Homo sapiens: one gene and its partner. Changing the gene in region 1 together with any one later gene gives a genetic interaction. Each region holds a gene or a part of one and is shown in the gene's direction. Other genes may lie near its edges. The genes, in order: NFKB1 and PTGS2.

The links.
Region 2: changes in NFKB1 (region 1) and PTGS2 together harm fitness less than expected from each alone (positive genetic interaction), as found in Homo sapiens cells (one study listed by BioGRID).

What each region holds. Positions count from the first base shown.
Region 1 is NC_000004.12:102,595,195-102,602,440, forward strand, and holds part of NFKB1 (nuclear factor NF-kappa-B p105 subunit), read left to right. Parts: intron 1-943; coding exon 944-1,138; intron 1,139-2,325; coding exon 2,326-2,467; exon of another isoform or gene 2,468-4,541; intron 4,542-5,700; coding exon 5,701-5,815; intron 5,816-6,450; exon of another isoform or gene 6,451-6,837; intron 6,838-7,246.
Region 2 is NC_000001.11:186,676,773-186,693,210, reverse strand, and holds the start of PTGS2 (prostaglandin G/H synthase 2 precursor), read left to right. Parts: upstream 1-12,787; 5' UTR 12,788-12,920; coding exon 12,921-12,972; intron 12,973-13,772; coding exon 13,773-13,889; intron 13,890-14,009; coding exon 14,010-14,153; intron 14,154-14,806; coding exon 14,807-14,950; intron 14,951-15,380; coding exon 15,381-15,562; intron 15,563-16,294; coding exon 16,295-16,378; intron 16,379-16,438. UniProt on the Homo sapiens protein: Dual cyclooxygenase and peroxidase in the biosynthesis pathway of prostanoids, a class of C20 oxylipins mainly derived from arachidonate ((5Z,8Z,11Z,14Z)-eicosatetraenoate, AA, C20:4(n-6)), with a particular role in the inflammatory response.

The sequences.
Region 1 (7,246 bases):
TAAGTGGCATGAACAGAGGAAAGAAAAGAGCATTGAAAAGAGACAACAGAGACCTGACTATTCAAATATTTTAAACATCATCAAACTTAATGTATTCTGTCTCTTTTTTTCTCAAATAGTACACTTCTGAAATCATTTTGAGTTTTATAGGATCGGTCTTTTCCCATCAAGTCATCCCCTGAGAAGCTGCAGTTAAACCACATGTTGATAGTTTATATTACAGGTCCATTCTAGTGTACCCATGGAAGAAATAATACTATAAAGAAGTCTTCCCATTTATTGAATACCTATTTTTGTGCCAAGTGCTTTTACATGTTTTAACTGTTATCTTCATGACTGCTCTATATGGAAAATAGTAACTCCATTTTGCACACAAAAGGCATCAAAGTTCAGAAATGTTCGTACTCACTGAAGGCACACAGAAGTTAGTGGCAGAACAAGAATTTGAAGCAGGTCTCCTGCAGAAAAGCTAGATGCTCTCATAGTATCTGTCAGATAACATAGTTGAACCTGAAAGAGGGTGATCAGGAATGGTACACTGGATAACTCCCACACTAAAGAATGTGAGTCGACAACACGTCTTTATGATTTGCTTTGTTCATTAGCATTAGGAAAAAACTGCTCTGTTTTCAAGAACTTTAAAAATTCAGCTTTCCTGCAATTCATAGAAGAGCTTTATTTCATTTTTCTCCTTTACAAATAAGCAAAATGAGATTTAAGATTTTAGAAGTATACTAAAAATGATTTTTAGAAATGAGTTTAGAATATCTCCAAAACATGGTATTTATGATATGACCATTTTTAAAAGAATTTTAAATTATTATTTTTCTTTTCCTTTTGCAGCAAACTTGTCTCTTACCTTTATCTGACCTACATTGGAATAGCGAATTATCACTAAATACATTTTACTGAGAAAAATCTGATGTTTTTGCATTTATCTTAGGAACCATGGACACTGAATCTAAAAAGGACCCTGAAGGTTGTGACAAAAGTGATGACAAAAACACTGTAAACCTCTTTGGGAAAGTTATTGAAACCACAGAGCAAGATCAGGAGCCCAGCGAGGCCACCGTTGGGAATGGTGAGGTCACTCTAACGTATGCAACAGGAACAAAAGAAGAGAGTGCTGGAGTTCAGGGTAAGTGAGCACACAAATTACGTTCTGTTGGTTGGCTGGGGAGGGGTCAGTCCTAGGTGCAGAAAGATATCTGCTAATCTAAAGATGATATATCAATATCTAGTTTAGTGTACTCTTCAAAGTTCTGTATGCCTTTGGAAAAGCATATGTCAGATCATTTTATTCACACTGGGATTTCCATTTTTGCTCTGTTATCTTTGAATGTAAAGGACAGAAATTTATATGTACATTCTCCAGTCATAATCATGCAGTTTTAGGGTATTGTGAGAGATAATCAACTTCTTTTCTGGCACAGATAAATAGAGAAGTATTTCCACAAGCTTAATAGTCACCCTGTCTAGATTCTGGCTTAACCGTCATACTGAAATAGAACTTTGCCTTAAAATAGGAACTTTTCTTTTTATCTTGTGCCCTCTTTGAAGAAGTAGGATTAGGAGAAAATGTACTTTTGCGTTTACTGTGAACCAATACTTATTAGCATATGTGTCATGATTCTAGGTCATCCTAGATCGTACTAAGAAGACGTCTATAAAAGCAAAGGTAGTAAATATTTAGAGTTGGTGGCCACATGTGGTGTCTATCACATATGCTTTTTTTTTACACCCCTTTAAAAATGTATAAGCCATGATTAGCTAGGGAGCTATATGAAAAGCAGGCCATAAACAGGTTTTGGCCCAAAGGTCACAAATGCCATTCCCTGACCTTAATGGAACAAACTTTACAAAAACGTGAGTGGCTCATTGAACGTCTCTGTTTATGGCAGAGATGTGTGTTTTTTCACACATTGCCTAACAAGCTAATTGTTAGAGATTCCAATGAAGGATTATTTCACCAAGATATTGGTGATTTAAAATCATGGTAAAATCTAACATTGTTTGGAGATTGTTTTCCTTAAAATAACAGATAATGGTCGTTCCCTTAAAATAATACATTTCTAAACTTTTTTCCTCTAACAAATCATACACAGATTCTTTAAGATCAATCTCTAACTATATTTGTCAGTGACCCAGTGTCCAATTCTGCTTTTTCTAGTCCACACAATCCAAAAGCATTGAAAGAACATTTTCAACTAAAATGATATGTCAAGGTGTCAGAACACTGATGCTGGTCAGTTTGTCCTTAAGCATGCCATACCCATAAAACAAAAGTAGGAACACTCAACTATGATTGTGGTCATTGCCTTACAGATAACCTCTTTCTAGAGAAGGCTATGCAGCTTGCAAAGAGGCATGCCAATGCCCTTTTCGACTACGCGGTGACAGGAGACGTGAAGATGCTGCTGGCCGTCCAGCGCCATCTCACTGCTGTGCAGGATGAGAATGGGGACAGGTAAGTCAGAACTTTTGCATGATAGGTTGTCCTGGGTGGGGAAGAAGAAGAGCATCGTATAATGCATACTGACTAGAGATAAAAATAATTGTTCAAATATATTGAGTCCTCTAACTGGAATGATGAAGAAAAATAATGTGTGAATAAGGTTAAGTAGCACAATTTGCTGCTCCATCCTGCTGCTGTCATCTGTTGGAATCTGTAGTAGCTGGAGGACTCATCTAAGAGTGAATCTCTCTGGGCAAGAAAACTAAGATGTGTGTAGGTAATGGTACTTTTTGAAAAGCCTTGCTTTGTTTATTGAAGTAATATTTGGAGAATTGTTAAGAGTCCTACCAAATCCCTGAAGCATTGTTATCCCAGCTGCATATTTATGACAGTGTACTCAAGAAAAAGCCCAATAAAGGCAGCAACAACAACAGAAAGATTAAGAGGGACTGGTCATTATTTCCCAGTTACTGGTTTCTTCTCTGCTCCCTCTTCTGATGGTCATCAGTCTATGACTGTTTCAGACTTTTGTGACTGCTCCAGCCCATATGTGGGAGTGGAACATTCCAAACACCATGCCTTCCATTCTTGCTATTACTGAGATTGTATTTGCAAAGCCACCTGGCTTCTTTCTAAAACAGTTCTCTTAGTCCTTTCATTGAGACTTCTAAAATGATCTCAAAAGCCTATAAAAATAACAAGAGACAGCAGCCTTCACATTCAAGTCAAGTGCCTTATCTAAAACCTTCCTAAAATAGCATCAACATAGAGAAATCCTTTTCTGTGGAAGAGCTCTTGAGTGCTGTGTTTTAGACTTCAGTTTAAAAATTAAACCAAGCACTTTAGGAAAGTAACAACCTCAGGGTTTCAAGCAGAGACACCTTTGTTCTCATTCCTTGCAACGTAACCAAGGATGTGGTATAACCACTGGCCTTGTTATACAGTATGAGAGGAACCAGTACAACCTTCTTGGTATAAAGCCATGAACAGCAGAATTCTTTTTCAGGGTTAAATAATCCAGTTAGCATTCAGTAGCATACAACCACAAGAAAAAGCAGTTAACCAAGACAGTACAGCAGTGTTTCAAGTGGCATTTCCAGGGACCTGTTAAATTGATAAGTCTAAGAAGATGAGCACATACAGGTTAGAAAGGAAGTGCTGATATCTGAAGGGAGGATTGTTGGAAGGGATACAAGGCGAGGCACATGCAAGTTCCCTCCTAAGACCCAAGCACACTCACACAAGCCGGCTCTCAGAGAGGCCACAGATTTGGGACTTGGAGAGACCAGAGGATCCTCATAAGAGCATAGGTATAGGGCAGCTTTTGGCCATCACAGCCCAAGTCTCTTGTTTTAATTCAGCTCGTCATATTTGGCTAATAGTTTAAATCCTGTGGCCATTAGTCATCATAGAAAATATAATAAAGAAAAATATATAAAACTTCTGCTATTGGGGAAATTCCCATAAGGGTGTGAGGATTTGAGGGGGAGGGGGAATGTACTTCTGCTATGAAATGCTGAGCGGCACATGGAAATTTTCGAGCAGTTTTAGAAGTATGACCTTTTTCTTGGTGTATGTGCATCATGTCTATGTCAGAGTTTAGGCCCTTTTCAGAAGTCTTCTTCCAGTATCACATTTCAAGAAGCAATAGTGAAACCCTGAGATCATCCGTTTTAAAATATTTCTCAAGTAGCAAAATCACAATTTAGTTTTTTAGGCTCTTCTGTGCCGGAGTTAATCCCAAGTACGATATACTTGCTATTGCTAAGGAAGAGGCTTGAGTAAAGTGGCACCTGATAGCTTATTTTAGAGAAGATCCAGCCTGTACCTCGTGTCCCAGATGTAGTGCTGCTGCGAGATGCTTTAGTGTGCTCTGCACCTCAATCTGTCCATGCTCTGGAGTGGTCATCTTCTTAGACATTCATCTGAATGTCTTTAGAACAGTGCACATGTATCCCCTATGCAGGATTGCTTAAGGGATTAAGAGATGGCTTTGGAGTAAGACAGGCCTGGGCTTGAATCCCAGCTTCACCACGTATTGGCCTTGACTGAGTTATATGACGCCTGCAAGTCTCAGTTTCATTAGCTGAAAAGTGAAGATAATATTACCTAACTCATAGGATTATTGTTATAGTAAAAAGACAATATATATCAAATGCTTAGCATAGTCTGGTAAATCAAAGCTCCCAACAAATAGTAGCCACTGGTAAAATGATTGTTATTGTTATTGTTTTGAATTTTAATAGTATGTTTTTTAATAATTAAAAGAATTACGCTCCTGTGAGTGACTTTGACACCACCAGTATGTTCAGCCTCATTAGCGTAAGCTCTTAAGTTCCTTCTATCATTCTTATTTTTGTGCCTCTACTGCATGCTAGGGTTGTAAGGCTGACTCAGACAGAACCTGCCCCAGAGATGACAGGACAGAGAACGAGAAAAATGTGTAGAAAACTGCAGTTGCATAACCAAGCAGTAAATTTGAGAGGGACAACTTGCTCCACCTAGGAGGTTAGGAAAGTATTCTCTGAGGATGTCAGGTTTGAACTGGAATATAAAGGATGGAGTAGGCATTGTTCAGGCAGAAGAAAGGAGCAAAAACATTCCAGGCAGAGGGAATATTTGCTGGAATGTTTGCAGGAGTGGTGGGAAATACAATCACTTTGTTTCTTCACAAGTTTACTGCAAGAATTTTCTTCCAGTAGTTAAAAGCTTCACTCCATTCTCCACTCTTGGGATCTGGAAAGATCTTTAAAAAACCACCACACTGTATTTTGGAGGAGGGCAGCAGGGCTAAGTGAGGTAACTAAGTTTTTCTGAACAATTCCTAGTGCCAGGCATTCATTTTACATAGAATCTGTGTGTCAGGAAAAGTCAGGGGGAAAGGTAGAGAAGAAAACCGCCCAAAGCCATGGTATAGAGGCAGGATTGGGATTTAAGCTTAGGTCTTTCTGGGCTGGAAGCCTCAGTGTGTTTATACATCAAGGGGTCAAGACCTGAATGCTCCCAGAGGCCAGGAAGGTACCACAAATAACGTAGCAGCCTTGGGTAGGCAGTTGGGAGGGACCAGTCCTCTGGAGACAGCATCCCACCTCAGATTCAATGCATTTTATAGATTCAAAACATTTTAGGGCCAAATAAAACTAGGTATGAGAGCAGATTCCATTCTTGAGTCTAATCACATCTTGGGAATCTTTTCTTTTTCATTAACATTTTAGTTAATTATTGCCACTGTGTTTTCATTCCAGTGTCTTACACTTAGCAATCATCCACCTTCATTCTCAACTTGTGAGGGATCTACTAGAAGTCACATCTGGTTTGATTTCTGATGACATTATCAACATGAGAAATGATCTGTACCAGGTAAGCAGAAATCTCAAGAAAACAACTGAAGAAAAATCTGTAGTTTACTTTTTCTTCTGTTATGTTTGGGTGCATGTTATTTTTAGTAATGTTAACAGTAGCAAAAACAAAAACAAACCTTTGTAGGTAATATCTAAAATCCCATTAGTTGAGAATGTTACTTTATGATGTAGGATCCTTTGATCTGTGGGTATAACAGCCATCAAGCCACAATGAAATTCAGCATCCCGCTGGGGGAAGGCAAACTTTAAACTTTAGAAATCAAACAGTTTTTTCATTTAAGAGGGAGAAACTAAAGTAAAAATGTCACATCTGTCAAGAAAAATAAAGTTAAAAAAAGTTTGAAAAGCCAGTAATTTATAATAATTTTGAAGTCTACTGAAACATACCTTGACAACATCCAGATTAAATGTATATCAAATGAAGCATTCTGAAATCACCACACAGAAAGGTTAAAAGTTTGCTTGAGGAGGAAAAGGTGTCTTTCAAAAGCAGAAAGACAGCTCCAAGTGAGGAAAAGTGGGAACACCAGAGTTTTGCCCAAATCAGGTTTTCTTAGGAATTAATTAGGTGGGCTGAAAATACAAGTTGAGGAACTGTTTTTTCCAGAGGTCTTCCAACACTGCAAAGGGAGAGTTAGCTGGAGACACAGCGAGGCCCTTTGATGGGCATATGCAGAATTCAGGGAGAGGCAAGGAGCCTGGGAGCCACTTCGGCAGAAGCAGAGCTTGGACGTTGGTGATGGGAGCCCAGTGACCCCAGCCAGCCTTTCTGGCTGAGCGACTGCACTGGCATGAAACCAAGATGGGGTTCGGCTCCTGAGGTTTCCTCCTTCCTGCCCCTGATTGCTTTTCCCACCTCACTGTCTTTCCCCTACTCCCACCAGTCTGCTGTATGGGGCTCCTGCCCTTGCCCACTTCTTACCTTTCCATTTGTCTCCTTCCCTTCATCGACCCGAAGCATCTTCCTCATCCTCCTTGGAGAGATGGTTTGCTGGTTCACGTGTATCTCTCACTCCAAAACTATGGCCAAAATCCTGTGTAATTATTTACTTAGTAAAGATATTTGTTCCTGCTCTCTCAGTTTTTATAGCAGTGATGTGAATCATTTCTATTTCCTCACTTTAAAGGAAAATGCTTTTATTATTTTAAAGAAAATTAATTAAAACTTCATTTTCTTTAAAGGAAATTAAAATATCTATTTTCTTATTTTTATTTCCATTCTTTAAAATGTGCTTTAGGCTGGGTGCGGTGGCTCACACCTATAATCCCAGCACTTTGGGAGGCCGAGGCAGGCGGATCATGAGATCAGGAGATCGAGATCATCCTGGCTAACATGGTGAAACCCCGTCTCTACTAGAAATACAAAAAAAAAAAAAAAATTAGCCAGGCATGGTGGCAGGCGCCTGTAGTCCCAGCTACTCGGGAGGCT
Region 2 (16,438 bases), on another chromosome or scaffold:
AAGTACAGTATGTACTACAGTTAATTTCATGCAGCTATAGTCTAATGCTACATCTTTACATTTGTTTATATTACTCTTCATTGCAAATGGCACCATGTATGGTCTGTCAGTGTTTATGTGTTAGGTTTTGAGAAATCTTAATTTTTTATAGCAGATTTGTATATATTTTATGGTAGTAAATAATAAAATAGACTAGTATCTGTATATTTCATGAATTGTGACATACCTAACCTTTTCTCTTTTTTTCAATATTTCTTGGCTACATAGTTTGTGAGATTTTTCAAATTGTCAAACATGTCTTAAAAATTTTTCCAATATATTTATTGCAAAAATTGCATATAAGTGGATCCATGCAGTTCAAACTGTGTTTTTCAAGGGCCATCTGTACATGTTTAAAAACTAGGAGACCTTAAAATTGACATATATTCAGCCCAACTGCTTATGTGTAGCTGTTGGGACTTATTAAACAATAAATGTATAGGTTGGGCAAGGTCTATGGGAAATTGATCAGGACTCCTTCTCAATAATACCATCAAAAACTAGGGTTCTTTTTAGCATTTTTTTCTTATATCATGGATATAAGACTTGTTCTTCAGGTGCAAAATGGCTGCAACAGCTCCAGTCATCACACCGAGATGACTCCCGCAGTGTCTGCAACAACAATTGCATTTTAAAAAGAGCTTTTTTAGTCTTACTCCTTTACATTTGAAAAAAAAATTAAGGGCTTCAAAAATGCTGATGACTTTGATTTTAAAATTATATTTTTAGGAAATAGCTACATGATAAAATGAAGGTCATCTAATTTTTGAAGTTGATTTCAAAGAAGATAGATTCAGCCATTTATTCAATAAGTATTGAGTACTAGTATATGCTAGTCATTTTTCTAGGTGCTTGGAATATAACAGTAAACAAAGCAGACAAAAATTTGACCTTCATGGAATTTACATATTTGGAAGGGGAAGACAGGTAGTAAACAAAATATGAAAGTAAAATATGTAGCACATTAGATGTTGATGAATACTAATAATAAATCTTGGTGAATTGTGAACCTGTTCATTCCTATGGAAAATATTAAAGGAAAATCATTTTTTGTTAAGAGGATAAGTTGAGTTTTTAGTACGGTAATATGAAAAGATCCAGGGGACAATTTCTCAAATGGTTTTGAGCTTCAGGTAAGAGTAAGGGATAGAGGTAAAGCTTTGGAAGCAAGAAACCCTGAAGTGCTTGTCGAAGCTATTGGGAAAGATGTGAACCTCTAAAACAAGAGAGTAGTGATTCAAGAGAGGAAGAAAGAGGCTTCACATAAATGCCATCTTTGGAAATGACGGGGGTGAGAGAAGGAATACATTTTTCAGATGTTTGCAAAGCAATCCTTGTCCTTAGGGTAGAGTGAGGTTTTAGTTAAGAAAGGAAGTAAACTTTCCATGAGTATCTCAATGAGCATCTGACACTATTCAATCTACACAGCATTTAACCTTGAAGCTTTTTCCCAATGATTATCAAGAATCAGCAAACAAATATGCATCGCCTTCCGCAAAACAGTCCTGTGGCTCGTGTGGTGGATGTTGTTTTCTCACACCACTAATAATGAAATGTAATATCTATAAAAGGTAGAATTAATATGCAAAATGAGTTCATTTTAAGCCCAGTTCAGAGTCACAGCAAAATTGAGCAGAAAGTACGAAGAGTTCCCATAGAACCCCTGTACCTTTCTTTACAAGAAAAGCTCATGTGCTATCAGCATTCCTCACCAGAGTGATACAATTACTATAATCAATGAATCTACATTGACACATCAGTATCACCCAAAGTCCCTAGTTTACCCCAGGGATCATTCTTGGTGTTGTGCATGCTATGGTTTTAAAAATGTATAAAGACACGTATCCACCATGTTTTTTTTTTTGTTTGTTTGTTTGTTTTTTTTTTGAGACGGAGTCTCGCTCTGTCGCCCAGGTTGCAGTGCAGTGGTGCCATCTAGGCTCACTGCAAGCTCCGCCTTCCGGGTTCATGCCATTCTCCTGCCGCAGCCTCCTGAGTAGCTGGGACTACCAGAGCCCACCACCATGTCCGGCTAATTTTTTTGTATTTCTTTTTAGTAGAGATGGAGTTTCACCGTGTTAGCCAGGATGGTCTCGATATCCTGACCTCGTGATCCGCTCGCCTCGGCCTCCCAAAATGCTGGGACTACAGGCACGAGCCACAGCGCCCAGCCTTCTATCCACCATTATAGTATCTTATAGAATAGTTTCACTGCCCTAAAAATCCTTTGCGTTCTGCCTTTTCATCCTCACCCCCAATCCCAACTTCTGGCAACCACTACTCCTTTTACTGTCTCCATAGCTTTACCTTTTCCAGAATATCATATTGCTGGAATCCTACGGTAGGTATCCTTTTCAGATAGGTTTCTTTCACTTAGTAATATATATTTAAGATTCCTCCATGTCTTAAATATATGATGGTACCACATTTTCTTTTACTGCTGACTAATGCTCTACTGACTGAATATATCACAATTAATCCGTTCTCCTTCTGAAGTACATCTTGATTGTTTCCAAGTTTTTGAAATTAAGAATAAAGTTGCCAAAAACATTTGCATGCAGCTTTTGTATGGACATACTTTTCAGCTCATTTTGGTAAATATCAAGGTGTGTGACTGCTGGATCGGGTATTAAGAGTATGTTCATTTTTGTAAGAATCTGCCAAGCCATCCTCCAAAATGGTTATACTATTTTGCATTTCCATTAGCAATGAATGAAAGTTTTGCTTGTTTCATTTCCTCACCAGTATTTTGTGTTGACAATGTTCTGGATTTTGGCCATTCCAATAGGTGTGTATTATCTCATTTTTGTTTTAATTTGCATTTCCCTGAAGACATGTGTTGTGGTAAATCTTTTCATATGCTTATTTGCCATGTATTACATGTGTATTCTTTGGCACTGTGTCTATTCAGGCCTTTGACTTATTTTTTAACTGGATTGTTTGTTTTCCTATTTTTGAGTTTTAAGACATCTTTGTATATTTTGGATAACTGTCCTTTATCTGAAATGTTTTTCGCAAATATTTTCTCCCTGTCTGGGACTTGTCTTCCCATTCGTTTTTGACAGTGAGTTTGTGAAGCAGATGTTTTTAATTTTACTGAAGTCCAAATTGTCAATTACTTTTTTCATGAATCATGCCCTTGTGTATCTAAAAAAAAATCATTGCCATACCCAAATCCGTCTAGATTTCCTTCTATGTTATCATCTAAGACTTTTATAATTTTACATTTTACATTTAGGTCTATAACCTATTTTGAGTTAACTTTTTTATTAAAAGTGTAAAGTCTGTATCAAGAGACTTTTTTATTTTTTATTTTTTTGTTTTGCTTGTTGATGTTCAGTTTTTCTAGCACCATTTGTTGAAAATGCTATCTTTGTTCCATTGTATTGCCATGTATCCCTTGTCAAAAATTAATTGACTATATTTATGTGGGCCTATTTCTGGACCCTATCTATTCTATTGATCTATTTGTCGATTCTTTTGCAAATACTATGCTGTCTTGACTACTGTAGCTTTATAGTAAGTCTTGAAGTAAGATAGTGTCAGTCCTGCAACTTTGTTCTTCTCCTTCAGTAATGAGTTGGCTTTTTTGGGTCTTTTGCCTTCCCACATAAACTTCCTTTTTTTGAGACAGGGTTCTCACTCTATTGCCCAGGCTGAAGACCAGTGGTGTTGATCACAGCTCATGGCAGCATCAACATCCTGGGCTCAGGGAATCTTCCCCTCCCAGTATCCTGAGTAGCTGGGACTACAGGCATGCACCACCAGGCCCAGCTAATTTTTTTGTAAACCCAGAGTTTCACTATGTTGCCCAGGCTGGTCTTGAACTCTTAGGCTCAAGCAATCCTCCTGCCTCAGCCTCCCAAAGTGCTAGGATAATAGGCAGGAGCCACTGTGCCCAGCCTCCATATAAACTTTAGAATAAGTTTGTCAACATCCACAACACAATATGCTGGAATTTTTATTGAAATTATGTTGTATCTATAGATTAATTTAAGAAGAACTGAAATCTTGACAATCATGAGTCTTTCTAGCTATGAACATGTAATATCTCTCCATTTATTTAGTTCTTCTGATATTTTCATCAGTTTGGTCATTTTTCTTATACAGATCTCATATATATTTAGTTAGATTTATACCTAAATATTTAATGTTGGAGGGTGTTAATGTAAATGGTAATGTGTTTTTAATTTCAAATTCCACTTGTTGATTTCTGGTATACAGGAAAGTGGTTGACTTATGTATGTTAACCTTGCATGCTGCAATGTTGCTATAATCACTTCTTAGCTCCAGGAGTTTTTTGGTCAGTCTTTATAAATTTTCTACATAGATGGTCATATCATTTGCAAACAAAAACAGTTTTATTTCTTCCTTCACAATCTGTATACCATTTATCTATTTACTTATTTATCTATTTATTTATTTTTGTCTTATTGCATTGACTAGGGCTTCCAGTATGATGATGAAAAAGGGTGATGAGTCAGGTACAGTGGATCACTCCTGTCTGTAATCCCAGCACAATGGGAGGCCGAGGTGGGCGGATCACTTGAGGTCAAGAGTTCAAGACCAGCGTGGCCAACATGGTGAAATCCTGCCTCTACTAAAAATACAAAAACTAGCCAGGCATGGTGGCACACTCCTGTAATCCCAGCTACTCAGTAAAATTGCTTGGACCTGGGAGGAAGAGGTTGCAGTGAGCCAAGATCACACCACTGCATTCCAGCCTGGGTGACAGAGTGAGACTCCATCTCAAAAAAAAATAAAGAAAGAAAGAAAAAAGAAAATGAATGGTGAGAAAGAACAAAATTGTCTCACTTCTGGTATTAGTAAGAAAGCTTCTGGTCCCCCATCATTAATTACAGTGTTAGCTATTAGTTTTTTGTAGATGTTAATCGTCAACTTGAGGAATCTTCCCTCTATTTCTACTTTGTTGTTTGTTTTTATTATGATGGGTATTGGACTTTGTCAAATGCTTTTTTCTGCACTATTAATTGTGTGATTTTTCTTCTTTACTCTGTTCATGTGATAGATTTTCAATTAAATGTTTAATGTTAAGCTAGCCTTACATACTGGGACAAATCTGACTTGGTCATGTTGCATAATTATTTGTATATATTGTTGGACTGGATTACCAGCATTTTGTTGAGTCGTTTTGCATATATGTTCATGAGAGATATTGGTATGTTATTTTATGTTCTTGTAATGCCTTTACAGTCTATGAGGTAATGCTGACCTTATAGAATGAGTTAGAAAATATTCTTTTCTGCTTCTATCCTCTGAAAATGATTACAAAGAATTGGTATAATGTTTTCTTAAATGTCTAGTAGTACTCACCAGTGAACTTATATGAGCTTGATTCTTTCTGTTTTGGAAGGTTATTAATTATCGATTCAATTTTTTAAATAGGGATAGGCCAATTCAGATTGTCAATTTCTTATTGTGTGAATTTTGGCAGATTGTACCTTCTAGAAATTCATCTAGGTTATCAAATCTGTGGTCAAAAGTTGTTCATAGTATTCCTTTATTATCCTTTCAATGTCCATGGGATCTGTAGTGATGTCTCCTCTACTATTTCTAGTTTAAAAAAAACTTTTAGATACAAGGTCTCCTCTGGTACCCAGGCTGGAGTGCACTGGTGTGATCATAGCTCACTAACCTCGAACTCCTGGGCTTAGGCAATCCTCTTGCCTTGGCCTCCCAAAGTGCCAGGATTACAGGCATGAGCCACCACAGTGGAGCTCTCAATTCTGATACTAATAATTTGTGTCTTCTCTTTTTTTCCTTAGCCTGACTAGAGTAATTAACTTTATGTCTTTTAAAAGAACCACCTTTTTGGTTTTACCCATTTTCTTTTTTGATTTTCTGTTTTTGATTTGATTGATATCTACTCTAATTTTTTATTATTTCTTTTCCTCTGCTTACTTTGAATTTAATTACTTTTCTTTTTTGTAGTCTCCTAAAATAGAAGCTTATATTATTGATTTTAGATCTTTCTTCTTTTCTATTACAGCACTCAATGCTATAAATTTCCCTCTAAGCATTGCTTTCACTGCATCCTACAATATTTCAACTCTATTGTTATTTAGCTCAAAAGAGGTTCTTAATTTCTATTGGGATTTCTCTTTGACCCATGTGTTATTCAGAAGTGTTCCGTGTGATCTCCAAATATTTGGGAGTTTTTCAGCTATCTTTCTATTATTCATTTCTTGTTTAATTCTATTGTGGCCTGAGAGCATATATTGTATGATTTATATTCTTGTAAATGTGTTAAGGTGTGTCTTATGGTGCAGAATGCGGTTTATCTTGCTATATGTTCCTTAGAGAATAATGTATGTTCTGCTGTTATTGGATAAAGTAGTCTATAGATGTCAGTTACATCTCGTTGATTAATGGTGCTGTTGAGTTCAGCTATGTCCTAAATGATTTTCTGTCTGCTGTATCTGTCTATTTCTGACACAAGGCTGTTGAAGTCTCCAACCATAATAATGAATTAATCTATTTTTCTTTGCAGTTTTATCAATTTTGTCTTATATATATTGATGCTCCATTGTTTGGCACATACACATTAAGAATTGTTATGTCTTCTTGGAGAATTTACCTTTCCATAACATGTAACATTTCCCTTTATTCCTGATAATTTTTCTTGCTCAGAAGTTTGCCCTGTTGGAAATTAACAGAACTACTCTGGCTTTATTTGATTAGTGTTAGCATGCTCTCTCTTTCTCTATTCTTACACTTTTAATGTATACTTGACTTTGTATTTAAAGTGGGGTTCTTATAGAAAACATATACTTGGTAGGGTGGGAAGTAAAATAAAAAGAAATACTTGGGTATTGGTTTGATCCACTCTAACAATCTCTATGTTTTAATTGATGTATTTAGACCATTGATACTTATTTTTTTATCCTCATCCCTGTGATTACCCAGAGAGCTGCTTAAATTGATTATTGATATAGACAAATTAATAATTAATATCTACCGTTTGTTACTGTTTTCTATTTTTCATTGCCCTTACTTTCTGCTCCTATTTTTTGCTCCTTTTTCTGTTAATTTAGGTTTTGAGTATTTTATATCATTCTATTTTCTCTCCCTTCTCAGCATATGAATTATCTTTCTTTTTGACTTTTTTAGTGGCTGCCCTGAAGGTTGCAATGTACATTTACAACCAGTCCAATTCTCCTTTCAAAAAACACAATACTGTTTCATGGCTAGTGCAAGTACCTAATAATAAGAAGTCACTCCTAATTTCTTTCTCTCATTCTTTGTATCTTTACTGTTATTCATTTCACTTGTACATAAGCTGTAATCTTTCAATACATTATTGCTATTATTATTTCAAAACATGTTATCTATTATATCTATTTAAAATAAGAAAAATAGGCCAGGTGCAGTGGCTTACTCATGTAATCCCAGCACTTTGGGAGACCGATGGATTGCTAGAGCTCAGGAATTCGAGACCAGCCTGGGCAACATAGTGAAACCCTGTCTCTACTAAAAATACAAAAAAAAAAATTGCTGGGCATGGTGGCATGGGCCTGTGGTCACAGCTACTCGGGAGGCTGAGGTGAGAGGATTGCTTGAGCCTGGGAGGCAGAGGTTGCAGTGAACCAAAATCAAGCTACTGCACTCCAGCCTAAGTGACAGAGTGAGACCCTGTCTCAAAAAAAAAATGAAAAAGAATTATTTTTATTTATCTTCACTTATTTCTTCTCTAATGCTCTTTGTTTCTTTAGTATGTAGATCCAAGTTTCTAACCTGTATCATTTTTCTTATCTCAATAACTTCTTTTAACATTTCTCACAAAGCAGATCTACTGGCCACAGAATGCCTCAATTTTCATTTGTCTGAGAAAACCTTATTTCTCCTTCACTTTTGAAAGATAATTTTGTAGGGTACAGAATTCTAGGTTGTAGGTTTTTTCCCCTCAAAGTGAAATATTTCATTCCACTCTTTTCTTCTTTGTATGGTATCTGAGAAGAAGTCAGATGTAATTCTTATCATTATTACTTAAAAGATTGCTTCTGTTCCTTTCTCTCTTCTCCTTCCCTTCTTTCCTTCTCTGTATATTACACCTTTTATAGTTGCCCCATATTTCTTAGATATTATGTTTTGGTTTTCTTCTGTGTTTTTTTCTTTGATTCTCAGTTTTAGAAGTCTCTATTTATATATCTGCAATCGCAGGGATTCTTTCCTCTGCCATGTCCAGTCTACTAATAAGCCCTTACAGACATTGTTGACTTCTGTTCCAGTGTTTTTGATCTCTAGCATTTCTCTGATTATTTCTTGGAATTGCCATCTGTCTACTTACATTACCAACCTATTCTTGTGTGTTGTCTTATCATAGTAATTGCAGTTGTTTTAATTTCATAGGTATTGTAATTTCAACATCTCTACCATATTTGACATTGATTCTGATGCTTGCTCTGTCTTATCAAGCTATGTTTTTGTCTTTTAGTGTGACTTCTAATTTTTTGTTGAAAGCCAGGCATGATGTACTGAGTGAAAGAAACTCAATACATTGTAATGTGACGATAAGAGTTCAGGGGAAGTGAAGCATTCTATAGTCCTATAGCAGGTCTCGGCCTTTTAGTGAGCCTGTGCCTATGAACGGTGACTTTCAACAAGTGCTTTTCATTCCACTCTTTTCCTGTCCTTAAGTGGGACAAGATCACTGGGGGGGGGCTAGAATTGGGTATTTCCCTTCTCCAATGTAGAAGCTAAAGAGAGGGCTGGAGTTGGGTATTTTTCTTCCCCTGTATGGAAAGCTAGAGGCAGTTAAATTTGGATATTTTCCTTCTTCTAATTCAGTTAGGCTGCGACAAAAATCCCGACAGTTTAGGCTCTAATATTATAAAATAATTTCTCTTGAGTATAGGCCTTATTAAGAACACTATACTCTGATGGAGCTGAGGGGGAGTTTTCTCTGATATTCACTGCGAGAACCTCGTAGAGCTCCAGGAAGCAAAACTCACAAAAGTGTGGGAGTCTTCCAGAATTTTTCCTTTGCAGACTTATCTGCACTGAACCTCCAGAAATTCATCAATTACAGTTCAGGTTTTCCTACCCAGGTACTGGTTTTCATGGAGGTTTCTGCCTGTGCATTTCTGCTCCAGTAAGTTGTTCTTCTTGTATGGTCTGTCTTTCAAATTTTTTAAGTAGGGTTATGACCTGTCGCCTCACTTCTCTGACAGTTCTGAGAGTGTTGATTTTTCAGTTTGCTTAGATTTTTACTTGTTTTTAGGATGAAGTGACAATTTCCAAGCTCCTCCCTGACATGCCAGATCAGAAACTGAAAGTCCTAAGCCTCATATTCTGTGCGTGGGTATGTTCACATCCTGCCTGCTCCAGTGCCCCCACCTCACACTCTCTTTCCCTTCCTTGTCCCCTTGTGAGATTTCTAGGTCCAATACAAAGACTGTGTTCAACTCATTCAACTACTTTGGCTCATCTGAGTATTATAATGAACAATCACAAAAAAAAATGAAGTAAAAGAAAAATCCATCAAAGAATTGAGATATTTGAGAAAAAGAAAGGAGATCAGTGTTTTATAAAACTTAGAAATAGATTTTTTAAGTGTTTCTTCATTGACTTATGTGAAAGGACTTTTCTTAATTTAACAAATTATGTGCTTTCGTTTATAGCCTCAAAACTTCTTGTGTAGCTAAGAATGGGTAAATAATCAGGCTTTACTAAAGGACTAACGTAAAGATCTTCTGTAAGTAACATTTCTGCTACTCAAGGAAGAGATAAACTTCATGGCATAACCTTGCCAAAGTATACTAAGAATAACCCTGACACAAAGCTCTTTTTTCAGCCAACATGCCATGAAAGAAAGAAGACAAGGGGTGATCTCCACTCTCTAAGTGAACCACTAAACCCACCAAAGAAGAAACGAGGGAAATAGAAAGAGGACCCTTGCCTGAGATAATGGATCTGTATGTATGAGTAGTAGAACCCTGCTCAAAGTACAAGGAAGGGAAAAAAAAGTTAGTTTATTTGGAATTTTGGACATTAAGAGTCTTTATTGTTCATTTTCTTTTAACTCACATGAATGGCTTATCACTTCAATTAATAAATATTTCATTTCTTTTCAACATATTCATGAAACAAATCTGAAATGAACAGTGCAACATGTGAATGTTTAGAACATTATAAAATTAAACACAAAATCTGTCTGGCAATCTTCCTAGCATCTTAGGAAAAAAGTTGACAAAATTTCAAGCAGCAGAAGGGGGCAGTAAAACTCAACAGAAAGCTCTGGAAGATTTTTAAGATTCTTCCTTATTTTCTTTTCATGTAGATTATTTCCCAACAAATTTCAGACGCTAATAGAAATTTTGTACAACAGATCCATATATTTGCCTAAAATAGACACAGAAACATTGAATATATGCAAACATGAGAGCTATAAGTTTTACATGATCAAACCTTTTTTTTATGGTACACAATAGTCACAGTACTTTTCCATATAAAACAGGTTTAGTGGTCTTAATTTAGTTTGGCACATTTAATACACTCCCATGACCAGCATCCCAAATGTACCTATCCGTTTTATTTTATTGTCTCAGAATTGTCAGTTATTTAATAAATTATGTAACTTTTTTCCTTATGCTCAGATTTGCACTTCTTTCTAAAACTCTGCCCATCCTTAAAGTCCCAGATTCTCCTTGAACTTTTTTTTTTGACTTTCCAAGTACATGGAACTCTTCACTCTATCCTGCTATATAAGTGACAGAATTTCCACTATGGGATAGATGGAGTTCAATTCCTTTGAGTTTAAAATAATCTAAATATAATTATTCCTTATGCCCTGTTTTTCCCTCACTTTTGTATCCAAATCTCTTTTCAGACAACAGAACAATTAATGTCTGATAAGGAAGACAATGATGATGATCACTTCAAAATGAATTCAGGATTGTAATGTAAAATTTTAGTACTCTCTCACAGTATGGATTCTAACATGGCTTCTAACCCAAACTAACATTAGTAGCTCTAACTATAAACTTCAAATTTCAGTAGATGCAACCTACTCCTTTAAAATGAAACAGAAGATTGAAATTATTAAATTATCAAAAAGAAAATGATCCACGCTCTTAGTTGAAATTTCATGTAAGATTCCATGCAATAAATAGGAGTGCCATAAATGGAATGATGAAATATGACTAGAGGAGGAGAAAGGCTTCCTAGATGAGATGGAATTTTAGTCATCCGTGTCTCATGAAGAATCAGATGTGTACACTAAGCAAAACAGTTAAAAAAAAAACCTCCAAGTGAGTCTCTTATTTATTTTTTTCTTATAAGACTTCTACAAATTGAGGTACCTGGTGTAGTTTTATTTCAGGTTTTATGCTGTCATTTTCCTGTAATGCTAAGGACTTAGGACATAACTGAATTTTCTATTTTCCACTTCTTTTCTGGTGTGTGTGTATATATATATGTATATATACACACACACATATACATATATATATTTTTTAGTATCTCACCCTCACATGCTCCTCCCTGAGCACTACCCATGATAGATGTTAAACAAAAGCAAAGATGAAATTCCAACTGTCAAAATCTCCCTTCCATCTAATTAATTCCTCATCCAACTATGTTCCAAAACGAGAATAGAAAATTAGCCCCAATAAGCCCAGGCAACTGAAAAGTAAATGCTATGTTGTACTTTGATCCATGGTCACAACTCATAATCTTGGAAAAGTGGACAGAAAAGACAAAAGAGTGAACTTTAAAACTCGAATTTATTTTACCAGTATCTCCTATGAAGGGCTAGTAACCAAAATAATCCACGCATCAGGGAGAGAAATGCCTTAAGGCATACGTTTTGGACATTTAGCGTCCCTGCAAATTCTGGCCATCGCCGCTTCCTTTGTCCATCAGAAGGCAGGAAACTTTATATTGGTGACCCGTGGAGCTCACATTAACTATTTACAGGGTAACTGCTTAGGACCAGTATTATGAGGAGAATTTACCTTTCCCGCCTCTCTTTCCAAGAAACAAGGAGGGGGTGAAGGTACGGAGAACAGTATTTCTTCTGTTGAAAGCAACTTAGCTACAAAGATAAATTACAGCTATGTACACTGAAGGTAGCTATTTCATTCCACAAAATAAGAGTTTTTTAAAAAGCTATGTATGTATGTGCTGCATATAGAGCAGATATACAGCCTATTAAGCGTCGTCACTAAAACATAAAACATGTCAGCCTTTCTTAACCTTACTCGCCCCAGTCTGTCCCGACGTGACTTCCTCGACCCTCTAAAGACGTACAGACCAGACACGGCGGCGGCGGCGGGAGAGGGGATTCCCTGCGCCCCCGGACCTCAGGGCCGCTCAGATTCCTGGAGAGGAAGCCAAGTGTCCTTCTGCCCTCCCCCGGTATCCCATCCAAGGCGATCAGTCCAGAACTGGCTCTCGGAAGCGCTCGGGCAAAGACTGCGAAGAAGAAAAGACATCTGGCGGAAACCTGTGCGCCTGGGGCGGTGGAACTCGGGGAGGAGAGGGAGGGATCAGACAGGAGAGTGGGGACTACCCCCTCTGCTCCCAAATTGGGGCAGCTTCCTGGGTTTCCGATTTTCTCATTTCCGTGGGTAAAAAACCCTGCCCCCACCGGGCTTACGCAATTTTTTTAAGGGGAGAGGAGGGAAAAATTTGTGGGGGGTACGAAAAGGCGGAAAGAAACAGTCATTTCGTCACATGGGCTTGGTTTTCAGTCTTATAAAAAGGAAGGTTCTCTCGGTTAGCGACCAATTGTCATACGACTTGCAGTGAGCGTCAGGAGCACGTCCAGGAACTCCTCAGCAGCGCCTCCTTCAGCTCCACAGCCAGACGCCCTCAGACAGCAAAGCCTACCCCCGCGCCGCGCCCTGCCCGCCGCTGCGATGCTCGCCCGCGCCCTGCTGCTGTGCGCGGTCCTGGCGCTCAGCCATACAGGTGAGTACCTGGCGCCGCGCACCGGGGACTCCGGTTCCACGCACCCGGGCAGAGTTTCCGCTCTGACCTCCTGGGTCTATCCCAGTACTCCGACTTCTCTCCGAATAGAGAAGCTACGTGACTTGGGAAAGAGCTTGGACCGCTAGAGTTCGAAAGAACTCCGTGGATATTCCAGCTTTCCCACAAGCACTGATCATTATGAGCCAGTTACTTAACCGATCTGAGACACTCTCACCTCCTAAATAGGGATAGATGATACTAATTTGCAGGTTGTCATTATGATAAGACAGGATCTGATCAATATATGTGAATTGTTTATATTTGGAACCTTTTTATTGAGTGGAAGAAGTTGTTTTAAATATTCTAGTCAGTTCTTTCCTGCTCCCAGGAAAGCCCGGATTATGTTTTAAGATAAGCAAAATGTCTTAAAAGTAAGCTGTTTTACTTTGAATTTTTCCCTAAATGTTGATTAGTGTACTAGATCCATTTTAATTTGGAAAGTGAAGTGCTACTTATTTGAACTTCTTAAAAATGCTAATTTTAACATCTAAAGAGTTAACTAAGAAAAGCTTAGTAACATGATGTACCAAGTTGAATATGCTGTTATCCTTATTTAGAATAGAAAATTGGTATTTCTACGTTTTATCCATTCTAAGGCAGGTTAAAAAATTGTATTTCCATGACTACCTATATATTTCTTGAATTTATTATTGTAAAGTTGATTCATAGTCAAACAATTAAATGTTTAAATTAAGATTAAGACACTAGAGAATGATTTATTTGCTGTCCTTTAATTGCAGCAAATCCTTGCTGTTCCCACCCATGTCAAAACCGAGGTGTATGTATGAGTGTGGGATTTGACCAGTATAAGTGCGATTGTACCCGGACAGGATTCTATGGAGAAAACTGCTCAACACGTAAGTTTGTCCTTTGGTTGCCTCATTAGGAGTGGGGCTGGATACAGTTATCATTGTATAGATTTGTGTCTTATAATGAGTCCCATTAATTTCTCCCTCCCTTTCTTCGTCTTCTTGCAGCGGAATTTTTGACAAGAATAAAATTATTTCTGAAACCCACTCCAAACACAGTGCACTACATACTTACCCACTTCAAGGGATTTTGGAACGTTGTGAATAACATTCCCTTCCTTCGAAATGCAATTATGAGTTATGTGTTGACATGTAAGTACAAGTGTCTTTCTAAGGTTTTTAGCCTTCTCAAAGAAAAATATGCTTTATAATACTGTAAGCCTAATCTAAAAACATATTTCCAAGCTTATCAAAAAGACTTTAAGATAGCTTTTAAGTTTGCCTTCCATCTTAATCGCCAAAAATATTGACATTTAGTCCCATCCAGTTTATACAGTCTGCTCACAACTCTGTATACCTCTTCTAACCTTTACTGTTTGGTCAGTTTGTGGAGGTAGCATGGTCCAGCTGTTTATTGAATGCCCATGGGCCACAGAATTGTTCTGAACATGTAGCACCCATTAAAATAAATTTGGATTTGGATCAGCAAGAAAATAACTTTCCATGATTCTAAAGTGGGTGCCATACTCAGCCATTCCTTTCATAGGCCTCTTGGATAGTGAGCAGATGGCTACCTGAAAAATCAATATTGCCAGATTATAATGTGCAGAGTATATGTATTTTATTAAAGATGTATTTCAAGTGGCCATTAGACTATAAAGTGTAGTTGTTTAAAAATAGATTTTTTTTATTTTGGAGTTACATTCAACCTCAGGTGCCACTTTCCACATTTTACAATAAAAATAATGGTTGATTTACTTAACAAATGAGAATAAATAAAACATTTTTTTCTTTGAAAATTTCAGCCAGATCACATTTGATTGACAGTCCACCAACTTACAATGCTGACTATGGCTACAAAAGCTGGGAAGCCTTCTCTAACCTCTCCTATTATACTAGAGCCCTTCCTCCTGTGCCTGATGATTGCCCGACTCCCTTGGGTGTCAAAGGTGAGTAAGAAGAATCCATTAGAGATGTATTAACTATAAGACGGGCTGCATTGCTGCCAAAAAAAAAAATTGACCTTAGACTACCATTTATTTATTAACAAAAGCAGTTTTTACTTTTAGCATGGTTATCTATGGGTATTTTTTAAAGTATGAGTCTATATAAACTATTATGTAAAAGCAAATGAGCGTCTTGGTATAATGTCTTAATATTTTCAAATTATTTCTTTAGAAATGAAATAATTCTAATTAAAATAGATAAAATCATTCAGTAAGAAGTTGTTCCACCATATCTTAGAACTGTTGTTTATATTATGATCCTATTCACAATTGTAATTCTCATATAAATGAAGAATTCTTGGTAGATTGACAGTCACCATCTCCTTTCTTGAATACATAGATGGATTCTTACCTTAGCTTTCTCATTTTTCAGGTAAAAAGCAGCTTCCTGATTCAAATGAGATTGTGGAAAAATTGCTTCTAAGAAGAAAGTTCATCCCTGATCCCCAGGGCTCAAACATGATGTTTGCATTCTTTGCCCAGCACTTCACGCATCAGTTTTTCAAGACAGATCATAAGCGAGGGCCAGCTTTCACCAACGGGCTGGGCCATGGGGTAAGATAGAGTTAATATCTTAGAGTTAGTAAAATTATACCAAATCATAGTCAAGGGCTAACATTAAAGGAGATATACAGATAGATAGATCCAAATAACTTATCCACTTTTTTTAAAAAGAAGTCTTATCTATAAAAACCTTAAAGGAATTTTCCATTTACTTCACTGGTCTAGTAAAATTATACACACACACAGACATGCACACACATATATAAACATTCACACACATACATATGTACAGGTATTGTTATTTGTAATTTGACCCTTGTATTTTTTAGTTTAAAATGTTAGTACTGCAAAATGTTATGTCCTCAAAAACACATTGTACCATGATTATGCCGCTTTCAATATTGTAAAGTGAGGTTTTTGCCGCATTATTATTTTTTGGATTTCAATAGCATAGCTTCAAGTTATTCGTAAGAATTTTTTATAAATAATACATTTTTATACTTTTTTATAATTACCATATCATCATAGTGAAGTATATAATATATATGATATAAGCTCAATATAGTATATTAATTCCGTTAAACACAAAGACATATCAGTTTGTAGCTTTGGTGGATAAACAAATTAATTTAGCAATTCATGGCTATGAAAAATGTATATTTTATTTAAAAATTTTAAAGAAAGCTAAATGATCAAATTATTTAATGATGAATTATATGATAGACACTTTATATAAGAAAAACTTCAACAGCAACAAATTAAAATTTTTTCATCATTTTCTAGGTGGACTTAAATCATATTTACGGTGAAACTCTGGCTAGACAGCGTAAACTGCGCCTTTTCAAGGATGGAAAAATGAAATATCAGGTATGCTTCCTTTGACTATTAAGACTTAGTTATTACCGCTTATACCCATATTTTAAAATC